Homo sapiens: one gene and its partners. The protein of the gene in region 2 purifies or fractionates together with the protein of the main gene of each other region. This does not show direct contact. Each region holds a gene or a part of one and is shown on either strand. Other genes may lie near its edges.

Region 1 (4,768 bases), on a different chromosome or scaffold from region 2:
CTCATTTCTGGGTGTGCCGGGCTGGTCAGCACCTCCCTGGCTGGGTGGAGGTGGAAAGGCCGCCTTCGGGTGTGGACGTCGGCCGGCTTCCTGGAGGGCAGGACACGGCATCCTCCCACTGCCTGGCAACCGTCTCCTGGGAGATCCAGCAGCAATCCCATTGCCCACTGTGGCTGAGCCTCTCATCCCAAGGGGGGGCCAGGCAGGGGACCATCTGCCCCAGCAGCTCCCAAGGCTGGGGTCCCAAGAGGGCCACACTGCTGAAGCATTGAGATGTGGGGAGAGAGGCGTTTCTCTGCAGTAGTGCCAATGAGGGCAGCGCAGGTGTGCCTGGTGGCCACCCCACAACACTGAGGGCCCCAGCTGCTGACACCCCCCAGGGCACCCCCAAGTTAGCCTCTAGGTGGTCCCTGGCCCCATGATGAGGCGCAGCCCTGTATCAGCTCCCCATCCCTCCCCCGGCACAGGAAGTGTGTGGAGGTTCTGGAGGGCTGAGCCGGGGGCAGGGCTATGCTGAATCCAGGGACCTGGGGTTGCAGGGCCTGTGTGCTTTCTCTGTAGCTTCTATGAAGCCCAGTTTCCCTGTGGATGAAATGGGGTGAGAGCACTCGGCCAGGCAGATCGAATGCAGTGCCAGGAGAAGGGACAGCTCTGGGGCCACGTTACCCTCCCTCCCCGCAGCGGGTGCTGAGGAAATGTCACTGTTGCATCAAATTAGCCACTTCCTGTGGGGGTCGCCTGGCCTCGGGACAGGGGAGCTCTGGTGTCTGTTCTGTGGTCTGTCTTTTGTGTTCAGAGACCTGGGGAGAGCCACACTGGAAGGCCGTGCTTGGAGCCAGACAGGGCTGTGTGTCCGATGGGGCGCCTGTATGCAGCCTGTAGCAGTGTGGGGCCAGCCCCACCATCTCATCCAGCGTGGGGGCACGCCATGGACGGTGCCCACCCCTGAGTGCAGCTTCTCGGTGCACAGACCCCAGACAGGATCAGACTCCTGATGGGGCCTCTTCCATGTTCACCCCTCAGAAACACTTTCATGGTCAGCAAGAGGGGGTTCAGTCCCCCACAGGCTCCCAATTTCCCTACCAGACCTGAAAACCTCAGGACTACAGCTGGGGTGGGGGATCCTGCCAGGACTCAGGTAGGAGAGTTCTGGGCCTGAGACGGGGACGGGCTCTGGGGTCCTGGGGCTGTCTCGGGCTGGGGGTGAGGACAGTAGCTGATGCCGGCAGCCCCCTCCCCAGGGCTTCGCTTCTTCGGGGGAGCAGCAGCACTTTTTTTTTTTTTAGACAGTGTCTCGCTCTTGTCGCCCAGGCTGGAGTGCAGTGGTGCAATCTCGGCTCACTGCAACCTCCGCCACCCGGGTTCAAGTGATCCTCCTGCCTCAGCCTCCTGAGTAGCTGGGATTACAGGCACCCGCCACCAGGCCTGGCTAATTTTTGTACTTTTAGTAGAGATGGGGTTTCGCCACGTTGGCCAGGCTGGTCTCAAACTCCTGACCTCAGGTGATCCGCCCGCCTCGGCCTCCCAAAGTGCTGGGATTACAGGCGTGAGCCACCCTGCCCTGCTCAGCAGCACTTCTTTCTACAGAAGATAAACCAGGCTCGGAGAGGTGGAGGGACCTCCCTAGTGGGGCTGTGGCTGCAAAGATGGTGGCTCACCAGCAGCGTCCTCGTTTGTCACCCACATTCTCTGGCTACCTCCATCCAGCGCCTCTCCTTGGGGCCTGGTGGGGCAGACGTCCTGAGCACCTGCCCTGGACTCTGGGGACCCGGTGGGGAGGGGACATGTGCCCTTGCTGGAGCCACAGAAGCCTGGAGTCGGTTCACCCGGCCCCTCCTAGTGGCTATGGAGTCTTCATGCTGTGCAGCCTTGAGGATGGCGAGACCGGGGTCCCAGGTGTGGGGTCCAGGCCTGGGTGACCCCAGGTGCATCACTGAGGTGGTGGGAGACTCCATGCCTCACCTACAAGTCGGGGATGGGGCCCACCTCCCAGGGCTGGGGGCAGGATTAAATGGGAGTCTGCGCCAGGTCCCCTGCTGGGGCGGGGCGTGGGACTCTGAGCTGGGGGTCCACCCCTCCAGCGCCGCTTCCTGCCTGCCCTCAGGCCCTGCTGCTCCTGGGGGCCGCCGCCCTGGCCTGCCTCGCCCTGGACCTCCTCTTCCTGCTCTTCTACTCCTTCTGGCTGTGCTGCCGGCGGCGCAAGAGCGAGGAGCACCTGGACGCCGACTGCTGCTGCACGGCCTGGTGTGTCATCATCGCCACGCTGGTGTGCAGGTGAGCGCGGTGGGGCGGGGACGGAGGGCGGGGCCAGAGGGGGCGGCCCGAGGGGGCGGGGCTGGAGTGGGGTGTGTGTGGGTGGGCGGGGCTACATCTCACGGGCCCGCCCTCTCCAGCGCCGGCATCGCAGTGGGATTCTACGGCAACGGGGAGACCAGTGATGGCATCCATAGGGCCACCTACTCGCTCCGCCACGCCAACCGCACGGTGGCCGGGGTCCAGGACCGCGTGAGTGGCCGCGGAGTTGGGGCCAGGAGCACTCTTGCTGCTCCGGAGCCCCACGTCTGCGCGAGGACGGGCGGGGCAGCCGGGACTGGGGCTGTGCAGGAGGGGCCCAGACTCTGGGGCGAGGCGGGCGCGCTCCCAGCCTCACGCCCGCGGGTCCGGCGCAGGTGTGGGACACGGCGGTGGGGCTGAACCACACGGCGGAGCCCAGCCTGCAGACCCTGGAGCGGCAGCTGGCCGGGCGGCCCGAGCCCCTGCGAGCCGTACAGAGGCTGCAGGGCCTGCTGGAGACGCTGCTGGGCTACACGGCCGCCATCCCCTTTTGGAGGAACACGGCGGTGTCGCTGGAGGTGCTGGCGGAGCAGGTGGATCTCTACGACTGGTACAGGTGCGGCCAGGCCCTCTTCCCTGCCCGCCCCACGTGGGAAAGCATCACCCTCCTTGGGCCAATTTTTGCTCTCAGCACCTAGTACATGAGGCCTGATGGGCAGGGTGTGGCCCAGGGCCACTGGAGGTCACAGGCAGTGGCTGGAGTTCCCCTAATGGGAGCCTTTCTCAAGAACTGACACCAGTCCCCATGACCCAGACGCTCTGAATGCCCTCTGGGGTGCCAGGCTGCTGGCCTCAGCTCCCCCTCAAGGGCCCCTGGCGCCCCACTCCCAGGCCCCGGGTCCCTGTGCCCTGGCGCACTCCCAGGTTTGCCTGCAGGTGGCTGGGCTACCTGGGCCTGCTGCTGCTGGACGTCATCATCTGCCTCCTGGTGCTGGTTGGCCTCATCCGCAGCTCCAAGGGCATCCTGGTGGGGTGAGTCTGGGGGTGTCGGCCCCCCGTGGGCCCAAAGCGGAGGGGCAGGGCAAGGCACCATGTTACCCCTTCCCCCACCTCATCTGCAGATCCTAGCCACAAGCTCTGCGGTGGGGGCTGAGCGGGACCCCCCTGCACTGGGCCTGCTCTGAGATGCCCCTTCTGTGCCTGTGGCCTGTGCCCCTGTGGCCAGCATCCCAGCACACTTGCCCCCAGCCCTTGATTTCCTGCAAGAGTCTGCACGTGGGGCACTTGTAGCCCAGGACCTGAAGCAACCTGCCCAGGTCTCCGAGTGCCTGGGGCCACCCAGAGACCAGGCTGGGGCTCCTTCCTCCACCCCTTCCATCCTTGGCCCTGGGGCAGCCTGGGTTCCAGCCCCAGCTCCGGCTCACTAGGAGGGTGACCTTGGGCAGGTGGCTTATTGTTGCTGGGCCTTGGTCTCCTCGTTTGGAAGGCAGAGAGAGCGGCAGCTCCTCTGTGGGAGGTAAGGTGTTGTCACTGCCCTTCACCACGCAGCTGCACAGCCATGGCTGGTGCCTCCCTGGGCCAGGCCTGGGAGAGATGGGAGAACACACAGCCTCCCCCCACGTGGCACTCACAGGCCACAGAGGAGCAGAATGAGGGAAACGTGGCATGGGCCAGAGGTGATAGCACCCTGGAGAGGAAAAGCCGGGGTGGTGTGAAGGCCTGCAGTAGGGTGGTGGGGGGGGGTGCAGCTTCACGCTGTGCCCAAGGAGACCTGAGCGAGGAGGGATTGAGCAGGGGCCCAAGGGAGTAAGGGACGCCTGGACAGACAGGAAGGATGACAGTGTGCAGTGGGTTGTGGGGTCCTCAGTGGGGTGTGCAGGCCTGCAGTGGGGTGTGGGGCCCGCAGTGGGGTGTGGGGCCCGCAGTGGGGTGTGGGGCCCGCAGTGGGGTGTGGGGCCTGCACTGGGGTGTGTTTTGGGGATCTGAACTGGGATATGGGGGACTCGTGGTGGGGGCACCTGCAGTGGGGTATGCACAGGAGGCCTGTGTATCTGGATCAAAGGGAGCCAGATGTGGGTGAGGTGAGGCCTCAGATGAGGGAGAGGCCAGTGCCGTAGCAAGAGCTCTGAGTCCCCAGTTGCTGAGCGAGGGTTCAGCACAGGAGGGCTTGATCTAGCTGACGTTATCAGGCCCCTTGGGCTGCTACGTGGGCGGCGGGATGCGGGGACCCACGTGAAAGTGGACACTGTTGCCTGTTCAGGAGAGGGACCTGGGGGACAGGAGGGGCGGGGCCCCAAGAGCCACGTGGCCCTCCAGTCCTGCTTCCAGCTCAGATCTCTGAGCCCCACCCCACCTAGGAGAGGGATCCATCTGGGCCCTGGGCTGTGGGCAGCTCTGGCTGAGGCCAGGCCACAGGAAGAGCCCCAGCCCATGTGTGGGCTGACCCCTGATGTGCACTGGGACCTGCCTTCTGGCCTGCAGCCCAGCAGGTGGC
Region 2 (4,768 bases):
AGTTTTGGGCCAACAGTTCATTGAGCAGAGTGATGCATGGGCTTGGGTATGGTTATTATGTGATAGCTGTGTAACACCTGTATTTGTGTTTCTGACATGATTTACCAGTTGTCCTGGGAAGTTTAGTCAAAGCCAGTCCATCTCATCCTGCCATTCCAAGCTGTGTGTCCTGTCAGTGTGGACATGGCGGGCTTGGCAGGGCAAGTCTAGGTTGGAGGGTGAATAGCCTGTGGACCCAGATGCCCTGGACCTTCTGGGCATCCTCCTGGGAGATGGGGAAGCTCAGGTCTGGTTTTGCCTCAAATGAGCTGTCTGTAAAAGTAGCAGCTGGGATTAGATCAAGCCTTCTCATCCTGGCCCATGGCAGGCAGTTGGGTATGGTGGCTTAAGAGCATGGGCTCTAGAGCCACACTGCCTAGGCTCAATCTGTTCTACTGCTCACTCTTCAGTTTCCTCATTTGGAACATGGACATCGTAACAGAGCTTTATAGAGATGTTGTGAGGATTAAAATGGGTAAGTATAAAATTCTAAAAAGTGTCTGACATAAAGCAAACTCTTCATCAGGCAAAATGTTAGTGTTAATCACAGATAGAGTTCAGGAACCCTGAACTGAAATGTGAAATGTGAGGTGGTTTGTGCACAGGGCTTATTGGTCGGGAGAGAGCTCCCTCAGGAGGTGGCAGAGTACAGTGGCTCTGAGGAGTGTCTGCCACACAGAGAGTGCTCTTTGCTGTTATGATGGGATCAGAGGGACTGCGTATGACTTGCTGAGAGCCCCCGAAACAGCCATGGTGCTTTGGACAGGGCTGGGATTGTTCATACACGTTTTGCTCTTTGTCACATTCATGCTCTGTCACCTGGGCCTGGTCAGGCACAGACTGGGCACTCAGAAATCAGTTATTGAACAAATGCACAAATGCCTATTTATATTTTGACATAAAGAGCAACAGCTACTTTAGCCAGCAGGCCTTGCAGCTGCCTCTGGTGGGGGTGGCGAGGAGGATGAGAGCCTTGTGGCAGTCCTGCAAAAATGCCTTGGGAGGATGGGATCCGGGGGTAGGGGACATGGCTGTGGAGCCAGCTGGCCTGGGCCCCACCCTGGTAGGAGCTTGCTTCTGTGATGGGAGCTGAGCTGAGAGGTGAGAGCAAGTGTGGCTTCTCATTAATGTGGATCCTCACTGAAGCTCACCAGCTGCCCAGCCTGGGGTGGAGGGTTGAGGGGCTCCCAGAGGGAGGGACCCCAGCAAGCCGGTGCTGAGGGAGCTGCCTCTCTGATGGACTTGCTGGCACCTGGCTTTGAGAACTGGACTGCCCTGTGTGAGGATGTGGCTGGACCTTCCCTGGGTTGTTTGCACAGTGCAGGGCTTGTTTCTGGTCAAGAGCTGGCTGGGTGCATGGGCTGCATGGGCTGCACATGCTTGCCTCTTGGCCTTCTCCTCCTCCTCTGCCTGCGGTAGCTGTTGCTTCAGTCACTCTGAGCTGGTCATTGTTCTTAGTGCCCTTGTCCCCTACAGGTCCCTCCCTGTAGGCTGACTTCTGGCTGACCTCTGGCAAAATGGCAGACAGCTATCAGTTTGGTTAGCTTGTCTTCCTTGGTTAGTCTGTCATCCTTCAGCTGTTGGCTGCTACTGTTGGACAGGACAGTACTGAGGACAGTATTCTGGTGGGTATGGTGGACTAAGGGTCCCCCAGGTAGACCCTGCCCTCTTCCTTGCCTGGGAAGTCTCATTTTCTGGGAAACCTTCCTTAGGAGTTCATAGTTGTGGAGAGGATTGTTTGTGGCTGGCCAGGGCACTGGATGAGGGGCAGGAGTCACAGCAGAGGGACCCAGAAGGTCAACACAGGGATGATCAGCAGGAGACTGACCACAGGACCGGGCCAGATGCTCCATTGAAACTAGGTCTGCTGATGCAGAGGTCTCTCCGGTGCCACTGGCTGCTTCTTAGGGCCTCCAGGTAGATTAGTTTACCTACAGAACTCTGTCTATGGTCTTAGAATAAGAGGACCTGGAAGAGTTAGAGGCTTGTTGGGGGCCATGGCAGGCCTTTGCTGCAGTTCTTGGAGGTTTCTTGGCCACTCCTGACAGTGGGAGCAGCTCTTCGGATTTCCCCATCTACCCTATTTGCGAAGGATGCCTGCTAGACCAGCATGGTAAGCCATGGGGCATGGAGAGAGCCCAAGGGTGTAGAAGATCTTGTCTGGACAATCTAGAAAAAATAAAGTTGATATTTCTTCACATTTGCTAACATTCATACATAGAATATTTTACATAAATGGAATTATATTTTTTATTTAATTTTTGTATTTAACTTATTTTGAGATCTTTGTAGATCAGTGCATATATAACTTCATTCTTTTTTTTTTTTTTCCTTTGGTAACAAAAGATGGAGAGGAAAGGTGGGAATGGGTCGGGGCAAGATTGTCTTAACTCGTTCTTTTTTTTTTTTTTTTTTTTTTTCCTCAAATGGAATCTTGCTTTTGTTGCCCAGGCTGGAGTGCAGTGGTGCAATCTCAGCTCACTGCAACCTCCACTTCCTGGGTTCAAGTGATTATGCTGCCTCAACCTCCCAAGTAGCTGGGATGACAGGCGTCTGCCACCATGCCCGGCTAATTTTTGTATTTTTAGTAGAGATGGGATTTTGCCATGTTGGCTGGGCTGGTCTCAAACTCCCAACCTCAGGTGATCCGTCTGCCTTGGCCTCCCAAAGTGCTGAGATTACAGGCATGAGCCACTGTGCCTGGCCTAACTCATTCTTTTTTAGAAATCTTTTTACTTTGGAAATATTTCAAACCTACATAACAGTAGGTTGACTTGGCAAGTGGAAACCCCTTCACCTGGCCTTTTCAGGATGGGAGCGTGTCGCCTTCTGACATGTTTCCATCAACTTGAAATTCCTTTTTACCAGGCACATCTTGTACCTTACCTGCCCCACACTGGAATGGGGCATTTTCCCACAGAGCGCTGGTTCCTTTTGGTGGGAGATGGTATTTAGAAAGCAGGATTTTGGTGGTAGATGTGTTTATTGCTAGCTACTAGAGTATGCTGCGACTCCATCTTTTCAGTCTAGCCCAAGAGGTGTGTGCATACGTGCATGTGTCTGTGCCTGTGTAAGTTCATACTGTTATTTTTTTTTTTTTATTTTTATTTTTTTGAGACGGAGTCTCGCTCTGTTGCCAGGCTGGAGTGCAGTGGGGTGATCTCGGCTCACTGCAACCTCCGCCTCCCGGGTTCAAGCGATTCTTCTGCCTCAGCCTCCCAAGTAGCTGGAACTACAGGCATGCGCCACCACACCTGGCTAATTTTTGTATTTTTAGTAAAGATGGGGTTTCACCATGTTGGCCAGGATGGTCTCGATCTCTTGACCTCATGATCTGCCTACCTCCACCTCCCAAAGTGCTGGTATTACAGCCGTGAGCCACTGTGCCTGGCCCATACTGTTTCTTTAGTTCTAATCCAGCGTTCCAGGTTCTTGCTTGCTTTCTCTGTTGCATGTTTGTTTCTCTCTTTTTCTACAGTGAGAACCCTGGCTCCCAACAGCATCAGTAGGTTTACTCATTTGCTTAGTCTTACACTGCACCCAGAATAGTTTCAGAAGTACTGCATTCGCACCACTAGTAACAGCAGACCTATTAAGTAGAATTTAATTTAATTTAATTTTTTTTAGCTCTTTGTGTTTTCAGATTGATGGTGTATACTCAAGGTTCTTGGGTTCAAAAGCTACTTGGATTAATTCTCTTCTCTCTTCCATGTGATTGTTACACAGTTAGGTTCAAAACTGTGTTGAGGCAGGGCCGGGTGGTTCACACCTGAAATTCCAGCACTTTGGGAGGCTGAGGTGGGTGGATTGCTTGAGCCCAGAAGTTCTAAACCAGCCTGGGCAATATGGCATCTCTGCAAAAACTACAAAAATTAGCTGGGCATGATGGCACACGCCTGTAGTCCCAGCTACTTGGAGGGGACTGAGGTGGGAGGATCGTTTGAGCCCAGTGAGCAGAGGTTATGGTGAGCTGAGATCATGCCTCTGCACTCCAGCCTAGGCAACAGAGCAAGACCTGCCTCAAAAACCAAAACCAAAAAAAAAACCTGTTTTGATTTGAAACCATGTTTATTAAATAATATTGAGAGTGGTATTTACTGTAACCTCAGTATTTATAACAAGCCCCTCTTTCATTACACTAATTGGTAAGGAAGCATCTCAATTTTGAACGGTTTTATTATTTTCCTAGGTTTTTTTTTTTTTTTTTTAAAAGATGGAGTCTTGCTGTGTCACCTAGGCTGGAGTGCAGTGGTGCGACCTCGGCTCACTGTAACCTCTGCCTCCCGGGTTCAAGCGATTCTCCTGCCTCAGCCTCCCCAGTAGCTGGGACTACAGGTGCGTGCCACCACGCCCAGATAATTTTTGTATTTTTAGTGGAGATGGGGTTTCGCCATGATGGCCAGGCTGGTCTTGAACTCCTGACCTCAGGTGATCCACCCGCCTGCATCTCTGAAAGTGCTGGGATTATAGGCATGAGCCATCATGCTCAGCCAATAAATAGATATTTTAAAAATAATTATTTTTCATTTCTGACAGTCCTGAGCCTTCGTTGATGTACTTTTGTCAAAACTCTTGGTAAATCACTTTTTAAGTTTCAGTTTCTTCCTGGAGACAAAAAAAAATAAATAAATAAAAAATAAAAACAAAAAAGAGTTTAGATGTTCAAGGGCTATTTGGGCCCAAGTGCTGACATTGTGAGCTTGTTGGTTTAACAGGGTCTCATTCCACC
Region 3 (4,768 bases), on a different chromosome or scaffold from region 2:
TAATCCAATATTGGCATGTAAATATATATTGACATATAATGCCACATACACACATGCATACAGACGTGTGTATATAGGTCTCATATGTAAAGACTACCTTCTGAACATGTGTAATAAACACTTTACAGTCCGTCATTTTTTGTGTATGAAGGTTCAGTTTCTTTGTTCTGTCATTTTCACAGTAAATGCTCTCTGTGTTTGCCTTTTCCATTAAGGATGTTCTGGGGATTTTTCTAGTCTTTATTCTAAAAAAGATATCTTATGATTATGTTGTCTGCTAACATCTTTTCTTTCATAATATTTGAATGAGAGGGAAATATATGGCAATCAAAATAACCTGTATGATTGTTTTTCACTGCATTGCCCTTGTTTGATGTCCCTAAATCTGTGCTGCTGTTTCTTGATTCTGTGTTTCTGTTTTATAGCTTTACTTCATGTAAGTTTGTACTACCTTTGTGGTGGCTGAACCTAACGTCTGTAAATTTACTTTTGTTGATGTTTACTTGCATCTAATGTAGGTCTAGGCATAGACTTTGTCTATTATCATGGAAATACAAAGTACAAGTGATCTGATGAACTTTGTTATACCCATCATCCATTTTGCCATATAGTTTTAATTCCTTTCTCCTCTCCATCTCCCCCTCCCCTGCCCCATACAGACACATTTATTTACAGACACATTTGAAGCCCTTTGTATATCCATTGTTGATCCCACTCTCCCTTCTCCAGGAGTAACCACTTTTTCGAATATGGTGTCTGTCATTATGGACATGTTTCTTTTTTACAGCAGAGTGGGTAGCAAATGTCTATGCCATGTTGGTATTCCCAGATCAGCTCTAGTCTTTGACTGTGTCACAGCAAAAATGATCCTGTTAATCAGAGTTGATTCTGCCCCTTCTCTATAGATCTCTCTGGTAAATGTGGAGGAACTATATCCTAAAGCCTTGAGTTAGTCTATTAATAAACTGGTTTTTAAAATTCATTAAAGAGAAACAGCTTATTGAGAATTAATAGACTTAAATTTTTTTTAAGAATGAATTGTTTCTAATATGATAGTTCTAATAAAGCACTATTGTACTGTAAAAGTGAAAAAGTAAGTGTGAAGGAGGAAATGTTTTTCTAAGGCTTTCACTAGGGTTAGGGCGGTAGGTTACCACAGAGGGATCGGGACATATGAGTTAAAGGGATCCAAATCATTTAAGAAGCCTTTCAGAGCATCAGTTTTGGTGCCTTCTGGCCCCTTGACTCAGGTGTTGGTAGGGAGTCTACTCAACTATGAAGTTTCTTTAAAGCATATGAACCCCAGCAGTTCCCAAACTTTGTGACCTCAGGGCCCCTTCACACTCTCCAATATTATTGAAGACCTGAAAGAGTTTTTGTTTATGTGGGTTATATCTGTTGATGTTTATGTGAAAAATTAATACTGAGAAACTTGTATTCATTTATTTATTAATTCATTAAATAACAACACATTCTACCTTAACATAGATCACTTTTTTTTAATGAAAAGTAACCTTTCCTAATGAAAAATTTACCGACACAAGAGATTGTTTTAAATTTTTCATTTTTAAAAATGTCTGGTTTAATAGAAGACAGCTGAATTTTCATATTTGCTTCTGTGTTCAGTCTTTTGGAGTATCACACATCATACAGCCTTTGCACTTGTGAAAGAATTTAAGTATGAAATCCAGATAATGTTTTAGTATTGTCCTGAAAATGGTTTTGGCTTTACAGATTCTCCAATGTAAAGTAATTCTTTAAAATGAAATACATACTAAAACTAAAATTAATTTTATTATGTATAATTTGAAGGAATATTTAACAATGGAAAGAATTTGATAAATATTTATTTCCCAAATGTGTGTTTCTTTCACCAAGTCTTTTATGCTGTGTAAGAAATAAATAGTCAGTCTGCAGTTGCTATGTCTGCATTCTTCTTTATCTAAGTCAAATGAATAGAGGAAAAAATAATCCTTAGTTTTGAGAGCAAGGATTCTTTCTCTTTACCCTCCCTTTTAGTGTTACGTTAGATTTTTGGTTAGTTACGCATTTTTTAAGATTACCAGTGTGGTATAAGTTCAGCATTTGTCCTTAGACATCATGTTTTAGTTATCAGTCATTATGTACTATAAAATATTTATTAAATATTACTTGTAACAATTATTTCCTTTTAAAGCATCAGAATTTTGAAGAACAAATGCAAGGCATGAAGACCCAGCTAATTCAGCTGAGTACCTTACTTCGATTGTTAGACAGTGGATTTTGCAGTTACTTAGGTAAGTTTAGTGAATCAGAACTATACCCAGCAAATTGTAGAGTAATGCATAGAAAAAAATGTAAAGAACTCTTTAAAGAAGCCAGGTGCAGTGGCTCATGCCTATAATCCCAGCACTTTGGAAGCCAAGGAGGGAGGATTACTTGCACCCAGGAGTTTGAGACTAGCCTGGCTAGCACAGTGAGACCCCATCTCTACAAGGAAAAAAAAATGCTGGCTGTGGTGATGCATGCCTGTAGTCCCAGCCACTCAAGAGGCTGAGGTGGGAGGATTACTTGAGCCGAGGAGGTTGAGGCTACAGTGAACTGGGATCACTCCACTGCACTCCGACCTGGGTGACATAGCAAGACACTGTCTCAATAAAAAAGAACTTAAAGACATATATACTCTATTGCACTTTCTTCGGTTCCATAAAAATGTGGAACCAAACTCTCTTTGTATAATTCTGCCTTAAACTTGATTCGTAAAATGTATTATTTGTTAGTTTTTAAAAAGAAGTCAGCCTTCAAGTTTGAAATGATTCCTTAACGTAGAAGACAAATGTATAGGGCCTTGAATTGCCTAAGATGCATAGGAAAGTTAGAGAAAAGTAACTGTATTCTGACATAATTAGCATAAGAGTAAGTCATATGTGTGTTTTTTTCTTCTGCATAGAATCTCAGGACTCTGGATACCTTTATTTTTGCTTCAGGTGGCTTTTAATCAGATTCAAAAGGGAATTTAGTTTTCTAGATATTCTTCGATTATGGGAGGTAAGTCCTTAAATTATTATGCAAATGTGATATTTATTATGAAAAGAAACAATTTATTCTGTAGAGTGTAAATGAATTATGATAGCCTTACTGAAATATCTAAGGCAAGTATGTTCCAAAATTCTGATGAACTGGTAGCCTCTTCTTAAAAATTAGTTTCACACTGAATATTTGGTCTTTTGGAGCTTCGTTCTTCAAATCACAATCTCTGTGAGATTTGGGGCCAAGAGGTATCCCAGAACAAGTGCTCTAGACCATTTGCTGCCTTTGTTCTTCCTTTGTGAGACTTGACTTTATGTGAGGCTTTGCCACATCTGTTATAGAGGATATTCTTATGTTTTTGGTGTACTCCTTTTGTTCCATTTTTTACCCAAGGCAACTCTTTATTTTTTCAACTTTTATTTTAGGTTCAGGGAGTACATGTGCAGGTTTGTTACATAGGTAAATTGCATGTTGCTGAGGTTTGGTGTGTGAATGATTCCATCACCCAGGTAGTGAGCATAGTACCCAATAGGTAATTTTACATCCCATGTTTCCCTTACACCATCCCCCCATGTGTAATCCCCAGTGTTTATTTTTCCATGGCAACCTTTAATGAAAAACCAAATCATTTCACATTTTCTAAAGTATTTGCTAATAATAAATCAGTGTGCTTTTTTTTTTTTTTTTTTTAAAGAGAAGGGGTCTTGCTATGTTACCTAGACTGATCTCGAACTCCTGGACTCAAGTAATCCTCTTGCCTCAGCTTTATAAGTAGCTGGGACTACAGGTCTACAGGTGTATGCCACTGTGTCCAGCCCAGTGTGCTTGTTCATAGAATGCTGGTATAATGATTGATCATACCTTAGGATAACAGAAATTCTTCCAAGGAAAGAATTGGGAGATAATCCATTTTGATTGTAAATCCAACTTTATACAGTGGAACTCTAGTGGTCTCTGAGGTTTTTACAGCTGGAAATGGATTCCTATACTATTGATGGCTGTGCTACCATTAGACAAGGCATTGTGCTGATTACAAGTTAAAAGTGGATTACTTTATGCTCACTTCCTCTGTTCTCAGATTAGAAGTAAAACCCACATGGTCTCTATCTGGAATCGTACTTAAATGTTTATCAGTTTTGTTAAATTAGTGTCTTAATTTGGGGGTTAAAAATGGGTTAATGTATTTATGCCTAGTGTTCCATTATTGGAACGCTAAGCATGTGGGAGTTGTTTATATCCTACTGCTCAAGGTCATCACCAAGGTCTGATTGAAAAATTCAAAAAATTGCATCCTCAGGCATAAATGGGTTTTAAAGGATGAATTAAGAATATTATTACCACATAGCTAGAATAACTCCTCAATCTGTGTTTACTAAATAAATTCAAACTTTTAATGAAACCTTTGAGGTTAATTGCATTGTAATTAAACTTTCAACAATTGGGTTTAGTTTGAAAATTATTCAACTTGATTTACTCCTTTTGAAAGAAGTAAACACATTTCGGGTATGATCTCATGGTATGGTTTGTGTGGGTGTTTTTATCTTTGTGGAAAATATATTATTAGGTACATGAAGCAGGGGGAAATTAAGACCCTAAATTCGAGGATATTATCTGTATTTAGGAACAGCTGAGCTGTTGATCAAGCGTTTTCTATGTTTGGTTATAAATTTGGGGCAGTTAATTCAGTTATTGTCACAATCAGGGATAAAATGTGATACAAGGGTTTTACGTATTTAGAATGTAGAGCTACCTCTGGGTG
Region 4 (4,768 bases), on a different chromosome or scaffold from region 2:
TGATTGAAGATGCTCAAGAATGTTGAGACCTGGCTGTTCCATTGTGTTGATCATTTGCCATTTACAAGGTTAGGAGCCTTCATTACCATGGGGCAAATGATTAAACCGCTTCACTTACACCACAGCCAGGGTTTAAAAGTAGCCTTCTCAGAGAAAGGGGCCTGTGCTCTGAGGAGCTTTCTCAGTTTTTTAGCAACTTGACTCTTGCCGTGGTCCCTTGCATTCCTGTCCTCTAAGAAAATCATCTGTCTGGGTGCTGTGTGTGCGTCTGCGTCTACCATCGGCCTTCGTCCCTGATCGCAAGTTGGGCAAGAGGTGTCTGCCCAGTTTTATCCACTGACGTTTAGGGCTGACTTTAAAAGGAATTCTGTGTGTAGTTAAAAAGTGCTAAGCATTTTCCAAACACTAGTACCTCATCATGAAGCCTCTCTGTAAGTGTGTGTTTGTCAGCGAAGATCTGCAGTGGCCCTGATCACTTTTTTTATATTCCTGTAGGTGATTCATCTGGAGAAAATCACTAGTGAAATGGGTTCTGCGTCACAGGCTAATATCCGTCTCACATCTCTTAAAAAGACACTGGCTACCACACTTGCACCCCGAGTCCTGTTGCCCGCCATCAAAAAAACTTACAAGCAGATTGAGAAGAACTGGAAGGTTAGATCTTATTGGGTATTAAGACTTTGGAGAAGGGAGAGGTGGTACTGCAATGTGTAAACTTTGACTTAAAGAAGAAGATTTAGTTTTTAAAAATACACACCGCTGAACTCTAGGAATCATTTGAAAATGGCACATCTCTTTCCTGTGTTATTGGTAGAATCACATGGGTCCGTTTATGAGCATCTTGCAAGAGCATATTGGGGTGATGAAGAAGGAAGAGCTCACCTCCCATCAGTCTCAGCTAACCGCCTTTTTCCTGGAAGCCCTGGACTTCCGAGCCCAGCACTCTGAGGTAAGCTCAGGTTCACTCCTCCAAATCCTAAAGCTGTTATCCACCTATTGAAGAGTCCGAGAACAATCTAGCCGTGTAACAGTGGTACTTGCCAAAATAATTTACAGTCAGGTATCAGCACTCTAATAAATGGGCTCTTCTGTTTTCAGAACGATCTGGAGGAAGTTGGAAAAACGGAAAATTGTATCATTGACTGTCTAGTAGCCATGGTTGTCAAACTTTCCGAGGTCACATTCAGGCCCCTGTTCTTCAAGGTGACGCTTTCTTCCTCTTCCTCTCTTTTGTGCTCAGATTTAAGTGACAAGATGTCGAAGAAACTAATACTGTCTTATCCTTTCAGCTGTTTGATTGGGCTAAAACAGAAGATGCCCCAAAGGACAGGTTGTTGACATTTTACAACTTGGCAGATTGCATTGCTGAAAAGCTGAAAGGGCTTTTTACTCTGTTTGCCGGCCACTTAGTGAAGCCTTTTGCTGACACCTTGAACCAGGTGAACATCTCCAAAACAGGTGGGTGGTCGCTTCAGTTCAGCTGTCACCCTTGCCCTGTGTGCCTTATACAAGGTACCAGTAAGACACAACCTAGTGCTTGGAAGCAAGATTTTAGAGGTTCTTAAGTCCTAAGCTAAGGAGGGTGAATTTTTTACTTCATTGTTGTCAGACAGTGAAGTGTTGTTTTAGCATCATGAGCGAATGTTATAAGTCACCTCACTTGGGAGAAAGAATAAAGTAAATGGCCGTTACTGTCAGTTACTGGAAGTAACTTTAAAACGCAAAAATTAAGATTAGTTTATTCTCTAATGCTAATACGTGACCCACTTGACAGTTGAGGGAATTTAACTTGCCAGAGTGAGTGTTAGAATCTTAACTCTAAAAGAAGGAATCATTCTTCGAGAGACCATCCATTGTGTTCTGCCTTCGTCCTGATTATGATTTCTAGATCATTTTAGACTCTTCTGATTTAGTTATTTTAATAGTGATTTCAATGTAAACATTGGAGATTAAATGGTTAAGTTCAGTGTTTTTTCATTTTTACTCTTCCCACGTCTACAGATGAAGCATTTTTTGACTCTGAAAATGACCCTGAAAAGTGCTGCTTGCTGTTGCAGTTTATTTTGAACTGTTTATACAAAATCTTCCTTTTTGATACCCAGCATTTTATAAGTAAAGAGAGAGCAGAAGCCTTGATGATGCCTCTGGTGGATCAGGTAACCAAACAGAATCATCTTTCGTTGCTGAGGAAGCCATCACTGTTCGAGCTTGGCAGGTTTTAGATCTGCTCAAATGACAGCTTGCTAGGATTTTTCTTTGTAAGGTTGTTTTTTCTGGTCTTTTTAATGAAATGTTTTATTTGAAAATTGTTTTTTCAAAGATATAACTTCATTGTGGAATTTGAGTTTTGTTTTGTTGTTTTGAGACAGGGTCTTGCTCTGTCACCCAGGCTGGAGTGCAGTGGTGCAATCTCGGCTCGCTGCAACCTCCACCTCCCGGTTTCAAGCAATTCTTGTGCCTCAGCCTCCCGAATAGCTGGGATCACAGGCGCCCGCCTCCACACCTGGCTAATTTTTGTATTTTTAGTAGGGATGAGGTTTTGCCATGTTGGCCAGGCTGGTCTCGAACTCCTGACCTCAAGTGATCCACCCACCTTGGCCTCCCAAACTGCTGGGATTACAGGCGTGAGCCACCATGCCTGGCCCTGAGTTATTTTTTATTTTTTATTTTTTAAACTGCTCAAAAGACAGACATGATATAAGCTGTCATGGTTAATGTATTCATTTGTTTTAACTGGGCCTCACTGAGAACGCGTCAGAGCATGGCTGTCCTCTGGAGCAAAGAGCTCCTCTGAGATGTTCTGCTGGAGAGAAAGGGGCGATGATAAAGGGTATGAGATTCCATTTGAGTTCTAGAAGGCAATACATTTGCCCTAGAGAGTATTAGAATAATGCCTGGTTTTTGAACCTGCTAATATCATGAAAGATAGTAAAATATTTGTATGTTGGATATTTTTTCAAACAGAAGAAAGAAATGAGACTTGTTGTTCAAAGTCTTTGTCTTACTCTTCCTAGCTGGAAAACAGGCTTGGGGGAGAAGAGAAATTCCAGGAACGGGTGACAAAGCACCTGATACCATGCATCGCACAGTTTTCGGTGGCCATGGCGGATGACTCTCTTTGGAAACCACTGAACTACCAGATTCTGCTAAAGACGAGAGACTCCTCGCCTAAGGTTAGGAACTGCGTGACAAGTACTGAAACTGCATCTTTTCACTGCATAGCCTAAACAGCCTGCAGGTGGTCACAGATGTAGGCCCCCTAGTAAACTGGCAGGGAAGAACATTGCTATTTGTCATCCAGTACTAGAGGTCCGGTCTTTTGTATTAGGCAGAAATTTGTGCCTAAGAAAATTTTGTTTTTTACTTACAGGCTATTTGTAAAGAATAGCAATGCCCTATCCCCACCCCAATGGTGCGTTGGGCAGAAGTACTAAAATACTTTCTAAATACTTTTAAATAACAAAGATTTGAAGTAATTCCTTCTTTTTTAAGTGCCATTGAAATGTCATTGTGCTCCAGAGAGAAATGCATTGAATTTATCCACACTATAGTCTTTTGAGTTAGAGCAATACATTCTGTTGTTTATAGATACTAGGCTTATGATCTTGTTGAGTAAGTGGTGGCAGTGGAAATAAAACATGGGTAGGTTGAGTGGAAGTCAAAATTTGACACCCAAGTGTTACGAATTTCAAACTGTTTTAGCAATGAGTCACCATTTCTCAAACTAATGATTGTATTAGAACTTTACTGGCTATAACAGACCAAAGCAGAATTTTATTAATAGGATTTATTAGTTCAAATTCTTTATTAGGATATGCTAACAATGAGACTATTATGATGAACCCCCACATTTTAAACCATAGGTTTTTATACAAGTAGCAGTATCAAATTTATTGTAATATTTTACTTTGCACAAATCAAGGAAATCCTGATTGAATCTAGGTAGTTACAAATGGTTTTTTAATAATTCACTTTGTACTGTCCAGATATTCTTTAATTAAAATATCCAAAATTAGAAGACCAGTAGGGCTTTTGTTTCAAAAGCTAACAATACCCAACTACTGCTTGCTTTCCTTATTATAGACAAGGCATGTGAGGAACACCTAGACGTTTTTAAAGCCCCAAAACTAGGATATTGTGACACAGAATGTTTTTTATTCAGTGCTGAGATGGGAGTTTATCCCAAGCGACTGTCCTGGCCCCTCATACAATTATAGTGGTGACCAGTCAGGGGCTGTGGGTGAGGAGACCTGCCAGAGGTGGCTGGAGGCACTTTATTGCCAGCCTGGCGGGCTGGCGAGCGCCAATGAAGTAAAATCTGGTGACACACTTGAGTTTGCATGCGGCATTTTATTTTATTGGTTTTTTTTAAAGGAAGAGATTATAAAAAGACATTTCACATTAAAGATTTGCAGTCCTGGGACACAGTTTGGAAAACACTATTTATAAGGTTGCACATATTACAAACAGCTCCCAAATGGTGAAACTGGTATTCTAAGATGAAAGCTTAATGAACATAATGAAGTGAATAAACGCATGTGAACTAATGTTTAAAAAGTTAGAGCTTGTCTCAAGTCAGTACAGCTCTTAAGATAATAAATACAGTAACACTACTTTTTATTTCTTTGCTCTTTTATCCCTTTCAGGTTCGATTTGCTGCTTTGATTACTGTGTTAGCACTGGCTGAAAAACTAAAGGAGAATTATATTGTCTTGCTACCAGAATCCATTCCTTTCTTAGCAGAGTTGATGGAAGGTAATTCCCAAAC

Evidence for each region.
Region 1: the proteins of DGCR2 (region 2) and TTYH3 purify together in Homo sapiens (affinity purification with mass spectrometry; one large-scale study listed by BioGRID and IntAct). This does not show direct contact.
Region 3: the proteins of DGCR2 (region 2) and TBC1D15 purify together in Homo sapiens (co-immunoprecipitation; 2 studies listed by BioGRID and IntAct, with this or other methods). This does not show direct contact.
Region 4: the proteins of DGCR2 (region 2) and HEATR1 purify together in Homo sapiens (co-immunoprecipitation; 2 studies listed by BioGRID and IntAct, with this or other methods). This does not show direct contact.

The regions. Positions count from the first base shown.
Region 1 is NC_000007.14:2,644,749-2,649,516, forward strand, and holds part of TTYH3 (protein tweety homolog 3), read left to right. Parts: intron 1-2,104; coding exon 2,105-2,274; intron 2,275-2,393; coding exon 2,394-2,505; intron 2,506-2,669; coding exon 2,670-2,890; intron 2,891-3,210; coding exon 3,211-3,306; intron 3,307-4,768. UniProt on the Homo sapiens protein: Calcium-independent, swelling-dependent volume-regulated anion channel (VRAC-swell) which plays a pivotal role in the process of regulatory volume decrease (RVD) in the brain through the efflux of anions like chloride and organic osmolytes like glutamate.
Region 2 is NC_000022.11:19,111,754-19,116,521, reverse strand, and holds part of DGCR2 (integral membrane protein DGCR2/IDD isoform 1 precursor), read left to right. Parts: intron 1-4,768. UniProt on the Homo sapiens protein: Putative adhesion receptor, that could be involved in cell-cell or cell-matrix interactions required for normal cell differentiation and migration.
Region 3 is NC_000012.12:71,915,522-71,920,289, forward strand, and holds part of TBC1D15 (TBC1 domain family member 15), read left to right. Parts: intron 1-2,176; coding exon 2,177-2,276; intron 2,277-2,929; coding exon 2,930-3,027; intron 3,028-4,768. UniProt on the Homo sapiens protein: Acts as a GTPase activating protein for RAB7A. Does not act on RAB4, RAB5 or RAB6.
Region 4 is NC_000001.11:236,551,986-236,556,753, reverse strand, and holds part of HEATR1 (HEAT repeat-containing protein 1), read left to right. Parts: intron 1-495; coding exon 496-654; intron 655-814; coding exon 815-949; intron 950-1,098; coding exon 1,099-1,203; intron 1,204-1,289; coding exon 1,290-1,458; intron 1,459-2,001; coding exon 2,002-2,156; intron 2,157-3,014; coding exon 3,015-3,173; intron 3,174-3,772; exon of another isoform or gene 3,773-4,646; coding exon 4,647-4,755; exon of another isoform or gene 4,756-4,768. UniProt on the Homo sapiens protein: Ribosome biogenesis factor; required for recruitment of Myc to nucleoli. Involved in nucleolar processing of pre-18S ribosomal RNA. Required for optimal pre-ribosomal RNA transcription by RNA polymerase I.